2 linked regions of the Homo sapiens genome follow. The protein of the gene in region 1 purifies or fractionates together with the protein of each later gene. This does not show direct contact. Each region holds a gene or a part of one and is shown on either strand. Other genes may lie near its edges.

Region 1 (3,655 bases):
ATGATGGAGCAAAGACCCAAAAGACTAGATTATTAAAATAGTCTTATTAAGGGTCTGGACCAAGACTGTGTTTGTTGGAATAAAAGCAGGGCATGGAGTCTAGACATATTTAGAAAATGGAACTCAGTGGCCAATTTGATGTGGAACAGGAAAACGGAATGGAGAGTCCAGAATGTGGCAGATTTCTGGCAAGAATGGCTGGGTGGGTGAGATGCATCTGACAGATCAGGAGGCAAGAGAGGAGCAGACTCACTGACAGTGGGTAGAGGCTGAGTTCAGTTATAGATGTGCTGGTTTTGAAGTAGTTATGAGACATTCAGCTGGACCCAGCCAGTTGTCTGTTGAATACTTTGGTCTGATGCTTAAGGGAGATACTAGAATTAGAAATATTGTTTCAAAAATCAGCAAGATACAAGGGGCAATTAAGCAAACAACAGTGAATGATACGACAAAGGAGACTGTACTGACAGTAAAGAACTATTGACAAAGTAGAACCTTTGGGAGCTTCGGTATTTGGGGCAGGAAAGGACAGAGGACAAGAAACCTGCAAATACAATTAAGAAATAAAGGAAAATTTAAAAAGAGAACATCTGGTAGATGCCAAGGAAGTAGAGACTCTTGGAGGAAAGAAATCATGAGGTGTATTAACACAATACGTTGACCATTATTAGCATTTTTGAGTATAATTTTGGCAGAATTTTCTGAGCTCATAATGATAGGATGATGGGCAGATTATATTGGGTTGAAAAGTCAAAGGGAAGTGAATGCACTTTTTTCCCCAAGAAATCTTATCTGAGACAAGAAGAAGAGAAGCAAGACAATGGTTTAACAGAGACTCATGGTCAGGAGAAATGTGTGTGTATGTGTGTATGTGTGTGTGTGTGTTTCTCAACAAACGAGAGAGCCTTGATTGCCTTTGTAGGTCTAAGAGAAAGAGCTACAAAAGGAAAAAATACATAAAATATGAGAGGAATCAGGTCCAGTGCAGTGGCCTGTAATCCCAGCACTTTGGGAGGTCAAGGCGGGCAGATCATCTGAGATCAGGAGTTTGTGACCCCTGTCCAACATGGTGAAACCTGTCTCTACTAAAAATACAAAAATTAGCCAGGCATGGTGGCAGGCGCCTGCAATCCCAGCTACTTGGAAGGCTGAGACAGGAGAATTGCTTGATCCTGGGAGATAGAGGTTGCAGTGAGCTGAAATTGTGCCACTGCACTCCAGCCTAGGCAACAGAGTGAGACTCTGTCTCAAAATAAAATAAAATATACAAGGAATCATTACTCCTACTCAGTGTTCCAAGGTGCTGGAGGAAAGAGGGAAAAATAGTATCATGAACACAGGTACAAAATGTCCAACAACTGGAAATTAAATGAATCATATTGTAGAAGAACATTTATTGCCATAAAATTATTACCATATACCATATGTTATATTAACATATATAGCCTTATATATGTGACATTCATATGGTATTATATTGCTATATAAATTTTTAAAATTAAAATATAAATTGTGATGTATTATTTTTAAGTTAAAAAAAGTTGGTCACAAAACAAGAGAGTAATCTCTTAGCTCTTCTTCCCTCCTTTTCCTTCCTGCCTCCTCAATCTTTTCCTACCTTTTTACCTCCTCCAGAGTCTTGGCTCTACCTAAAGAGAGTTGTGGGAAGTTCTTTCTTAGTGTTGTGAGGTAGGTTAGCTTTGTCAAGTAAAACCAAGCTTTCTGTTTATCTTGCTAGACGGTGATATTTCATCTAAACGATTGGTACCAGATATGTTTTGGAATCTTCCTATTTAAAGATAATAATACATATTACTTGATATTACCAGCAGAGTCTGGGAAAATACCCAGAATCAAACATATTAATATATCTATTGGAAAACATGGGATTATTCACCTTAAATAGCTTGAATAAAAATGTTATAGCCTTATGTTAATTCAAGTTAGGTCTTAATGCCAATGTGCCAGTGGGTTACAAAAATCCTTTATTTTCAGAAGATTTTGGATTTTTGTATTGAAGATAAGGAATTTTGGTATAATATTATATTTATAATTTTTCATAGTCTAACTGTGATGATATATTATGCTTGAAAAATCTCGATTATCACCAAAAGCTACCTCCAAACCAAGGGAAGAGACACAAAGAGAGGTAAAAGTGAAATAAACCCCTATCTTGCCACACAGATTTTCCAAGCATTTTATAGCAAATATGCATAATTTTGTTTATATCAGTATGTCATTGCAAACATCACTCAGAGTTTTGCTTTTATAGTTTTTCTTTGTTTTTCCTAAAGTTATTAATTGCCTTATTTTTTTAAATTTCGTTAATTTTCTTTGACTTTTTGTTAAAACCCCATATCTTCCAACAGCATCTCAGAATAATTTTTCCACAATATCATTTTCATAAGTTTATCTTGAGCTAAAAATAATAACCTTTCTCTGCACTGGTTTCCCTCTAGTCATTCTGCACAGTTGTCATATTGAGATTTCCTTTACTGTCATCCTAGGAATGCTCTCTTAGCTATTTCCTTGTTTTAGGTTCTCTGTTTTTCTCCTTCTACCTTTATTTGCTCCTTTGTTCTGTTGTAGTCAACGCTGTCTAGTCACATTGCTCTAATCTGAACTGGCTGCTCTCCATGCCTTGTATACGATAGGAGTCATCCTGGAATCTCCCTTTATCCTCATGGTGAAGATTTTTCTTTACCACTTCCCTGTGTGGATTTCCTGTTTTCTGTTCCCCGTCTTCCTTGTTTTGGGCTTGTGCCCTCTTTCTTGTTGTTAACAGTTTCCGGAAAGAGAGTGATCGGGATGCAAGATTTTTGAGACTCACTGGTCTGAAACTGCCTTTCCTCTTAAATTTAGTTAAGTATTTCCCTGGGCATGGAATTCAAAGGTGGTTATGACTTTTCTTCAGGATTGTGAATGTATTTATATCCTCCCATCTTACGTTGCTATTGAGAATTCTGAAGTTCTTCTGATTCCTGATTCTTTGTATGTGTATTCCTCATTCCACACCTTCCCCAGAATGCATGCAGAATTTCTTCCTTTCTATTTTCTTTTCTCTTTTTCTGAAACTCTTATTATTGGGATCTTCTGCCTCTTGGATTAGGGCTCTAATTTTCCGACATTTTCTCTGCTATTTTTTACTACTTTATTTTTCTCCTCTACTTTCTGAGAGATTTCCTCCTCTTGATCTTCCAAATCTTGTACTGAATCTTTTATTTTTGTTAACATGTTCTTAATTTCCAAGAACTCTTTTTTCTTGTCTTCGGAGTTTCAACACTTATTGTTGTTTTGTGCATGTATTATTTTTTCTTCTCTCTCTGAGGCTATTTAGGAAATTTTTTATTGAAGCTCCTCCCCCCTGCTTCCTTCAAGTTGCTTTTATCTGCTTTTTTATTTGCTTTTTCATGCAATAAGTTTTTCTCACATGTCTGGTAACTCTTGGGGATTACCAAAAACTCATAGAAAATTCTGACCATGTGAGTAACACTTGCCAATTTTGAGCTTCATGATAGAATGATCTAGCTGGACCTTTTGCTGCGGGGAAATCGGAGGTAAGTGTCTTTGGAGACTTCCTCTTGGGATGGTCAGGTCTCCCAGGTTTCAAGATTCTTCTAATTTCCTTCTTGAATCAGTTGCCTAATTTAGGAAA
Region 2 (3,655 bases), on another chromosome or scaffold:
CAAAGGGGCTTTGCAGATGTGAGTAAGACTCTTCAGAAGAGGAGAGTGTCCTTTATTACCTAGGTAGGCCCTAAATGTAACCACAAGTGCCCTTATAAGAGGGAGATTTGACTAAGAAGAGGAGACAGAAGCAGCGACTGAAGTGACACACTTTGCCGATGAAGGAAGAGGGCTACAAGCCAAGGCATGCAGGCAGACTCTAGAAGCAGGAAAAGCCAAGGAAACAGATTCCCTTTCAGAGCTTTCAGAAGGAAACAGCCCTGCCGACACCTTGACTTTAGTCCAGTGTCTGGCTTCCAGAACTGTAAGAGAATACATTTGTGCTGTTTTAAGTCGCTGCACGTGTGGCAATTTGTTACAGCAGCAATGGGAAAAGAATTATCTAGGAACTTAGAAATAGGCCCTTCTCCAATATATTCATCTGTAAACCAAATTTGGGTATGGTTATGCTTAAATTATAACTACTATCTTGTATGTATTAAAACATTCTTATCAATGTAAATGTAATAGAAAATACCCTCCTTTAACTCAAATATGTCAATGAAAAACCATAATAATGCATATAAAATCAAGTGATGCATATAATCTAATTACGTTTAAGCAACAGAGTAGAAAAGGGTATTTAAATTGGCATAATGGTGACTTGAAGGCAAGCTGCAGTAATTTCAGCTGTTGCTTTTACTAATATTGTAAGTGAAGTTATGAAATATCTTGCACCAAAATACAGTTATATATTGCACCAGAATTACACCAGAAATAGTTATATATTGCAGTTATATAAATGCAGTTACATAATTACACCAGAAATACAGTTATATATTGCAGCAGAGTTAAGTAACTTGCTCAATGTCACACAGTTATTAAGTGGCAGAACTCTTGGCTCCATAAATGTTTGTTGAATAAATACATGGTGCCTTCAAGGTCCACTTAGCAAAAATTTGGATAGCAATGTGAGGGGGAGGCATAAGGCCTCAAACAGTCCAGGACAGATCTCTGATAAGGTAAAATCATTTGGGTTTGTCGTAAACTTCTGGGTCTCCTTGTCTGGATCCCCAGTATTAAGCCCCCTGGTTGTTTTTGTTTTGTTTTGTTTTCAGAATTTTCCCATTCCACTCTGATGCTTGATCTCATTCTTACAGGGCAGTGATGTATCCAGGTACCCGGCTCTGCATCTGACCCTGGGGTATCACCAGCTCTACTTGTTTCTGTTTGGCTATTGACACTCCTGTTAATGTTGCCTCAGGGCCTGGGTTGGCTATTCTTTTTTGGTGGTGCTGACTCCATGGTTATGGGACTTGTAGTGGTTTGGATCTGTGTCCCTGCCCAAATGTAATATAATCCCCAATGTTGAGGAGAAGCGTGGTGGGAGATGACTGGATCATCAGGGCGGTTTCTCATGGTTTAAACACCATCCACCTTGGCGACAGTGAGCTCTCTGCTCTCTGGTCATTTAAAAGCATGTGGCACCTCCCCTCGACCTTGCTTCTACTCTGGCCATGTGATGTGTGTGCTCCCTCTTTCCTTTCCACCATGATTGTACATTTCCTGAGTCCTCCCCAGAAGCAGAAGCCTCATGCTTCCTGTACAACATGCAGAACCCTGAGCCAATTAAACCTCTTTTTTTAAATAAATTACCCAGTCTCAGGTATTTCTTTACAGCAGTGCGAGAACTAATAGAGGACCCAATAATTTAACAAAACAACAACAACATAAAATCTTCCAGAAAACAAATGTGATTGGGAAACTGAACAAGAAACAAGTTTAGAGCCATAAAACTATTAAAGACATAAATAGGTGCTACTTACGCAGGTGGACTATCACCACAATACTTTCCAATTCTTCTAGCATCGTTGACTTCCCCGCCATTAAACACAGCCACATAATCATATCGGCAGTAGTTATCTCGCTCCACATCAAACTTCTCAAACTTTAATTCTATAAGCTTTAGAGAAAGCACAATAGAAGTGTCAAATATTAATAGCATTGTTGAATAACCTCAAATGGAATTCTTCCTCTCCCCAGATTTGGAGGATACTACGATTTTCCTTTGTAAAAAAAGTATGCATTAAGTGCTTTTTGTTGCATATTTCTTATTTAGTTAAAAAAAAAACTGTGGTATTCTTTTGCTTTTAATTGTAATCTTTCCAAAAGATCATCTCAAACTCAGATCAACTCTAGTTAGGATATTCAACTTAAGAACTCTGTTCACTTACAGCTACAAAAGTATGGGAACATTATGTAACACTAGCAACCTACTTTAAGACTATAATTGGTTTTGGAGATCTATTGTACAGCATGGTAACTATAGTTAATAATAACATATAATAAACTTCAAAATTGCTGAGAGTAAATTTTTTTTTTTTTTGAGACAGAGTTTCACTCTTGTTGCCCAGGCTGGAGTGCAGTGGTGCAATGTCAGCTCACTGCAACCTCTGCCTCCCGGGTTCAAGCAATTATCCTGCCTCAGCCTCCTGAGTAGCTGGAGTTTCAGGTGCCCGCCACCACACTCAGCTAATTTTTGTATTTTTAGTACAGACGGGATTTCACCATGTTGGCCAGTCTGCTCTCAAACTCCTGACCTCAAGTAATCCACCTGCCTTGGCCTCCCAAAGTGCTGGGATTACAGGCATGAGCCACCATGCCCAGCCGAGAGTAAATCCTAAATGTTAACACCACATTCCACACACAAACAAAATAATAACTATGTGAGGTGGATATGTTAATTACTTTGATTGTGGTAATCATTTCACAATGTATACATATATCAAAATATAATGTTGCACATGATAAATATATATGTTGCACATATAAATATAATTTTCACTTGTCAACTATACCTCAATAAAGCTGCAGAGAAAAAGAAAAAGAAAGAGAAAAACAAGATTGTAATTGGATAACTGGATGTGTGTTATAGTGGGAAAAGGGGCTACATACCTTAATAGAAGCTAATAGAAATAAAAAGTATTATCTAAGATGCTCCTTATACTACTGTATGTCAGGGAGTAGTAGTGTGTGTGAATATATGTGTAGGAGGGTGAGCTGAGTGGATAGAGTTGTTCCCCTTTTGAGGGAAGGAGACTGACATTTCTATCAGATGTAAAGAAGTCAAATTTTCAGGACCAGTTATTCAGGGAAGTGGAATTGATGGCAGTGTCTTCTTGAAGTATGTTTGAAATGTGTGATACCGTGCACGGCCTAATCAGGGTGTGGTTATTTTTGAAGAGGTTGCACAGAAGCACTGATCTACAAAGTCAGTGTTAGGTTTTTAGTATTTCTCAATTTTTTGCACTAGTACCAATAATAGTGTCCTAAATTATTCACGTGAATAGAAAATTTTGATTAAATAGGCAATCAATCATTCCCCATACAAGCAAATGTTTAAAAGAACATTTCCAACATGTGAATCAAAGGAAACCTCACTGGATTTATTATTACCTATGACAGCTGGTACCCAATCTTGCCGAGCAGCAAGTGGGCAAGAACCCTCCTTGCTACTTCAGGGAAGATAAAGGACATTAATTCCTATTAGCTAGAGAAGACTCAAACACAGTAATCCAGGTGAAGATGATAATAGCAACAGCATCACAGATGGACACAAAGGTAATTTTGGCTTTGACCATAATTTCCACACATCTTTGGACTGAACTACCTTTTA

The links.
Region 2: the proteins of VNN1 (region 1) and PCOLCE2 purify together in Homo sapiens (affinity purification with mass spectrometry; one large-scale study listed by BioGRID and IntAct). This does not show direct contact.

The regions. Positions count from the first base shown.
Region 1 is NC_000006.12:132,686,501-132,690,155, reverse strand, and holds part of VNN1 (pantetheinase precursor), read left to right. Parts: intron 1-3,655. UniProt on the Homo sapiens protein: Amidohydrolase that hydrolyzes specifically one of the carboamide linkages in D-pantetheine thus recycling pantothenic acid (vitamin B5) and releasing cysteamine.
Region 2 is NC_000003.12:142,836,965-142,840,619, forward strand, and holds part of PCOLCE2 (procollagen C-endopeptidase enhancer 2 precursor), read right to left. Parts: intron 1,943-3,655; coding exon 1,806-1,942; intron 1-1,805. UniProt on the Homo sapiens protein: Binds to the C-terminal propeptide of types I and II procollagens and may enhance the cleavage of that propeptide by BMP1.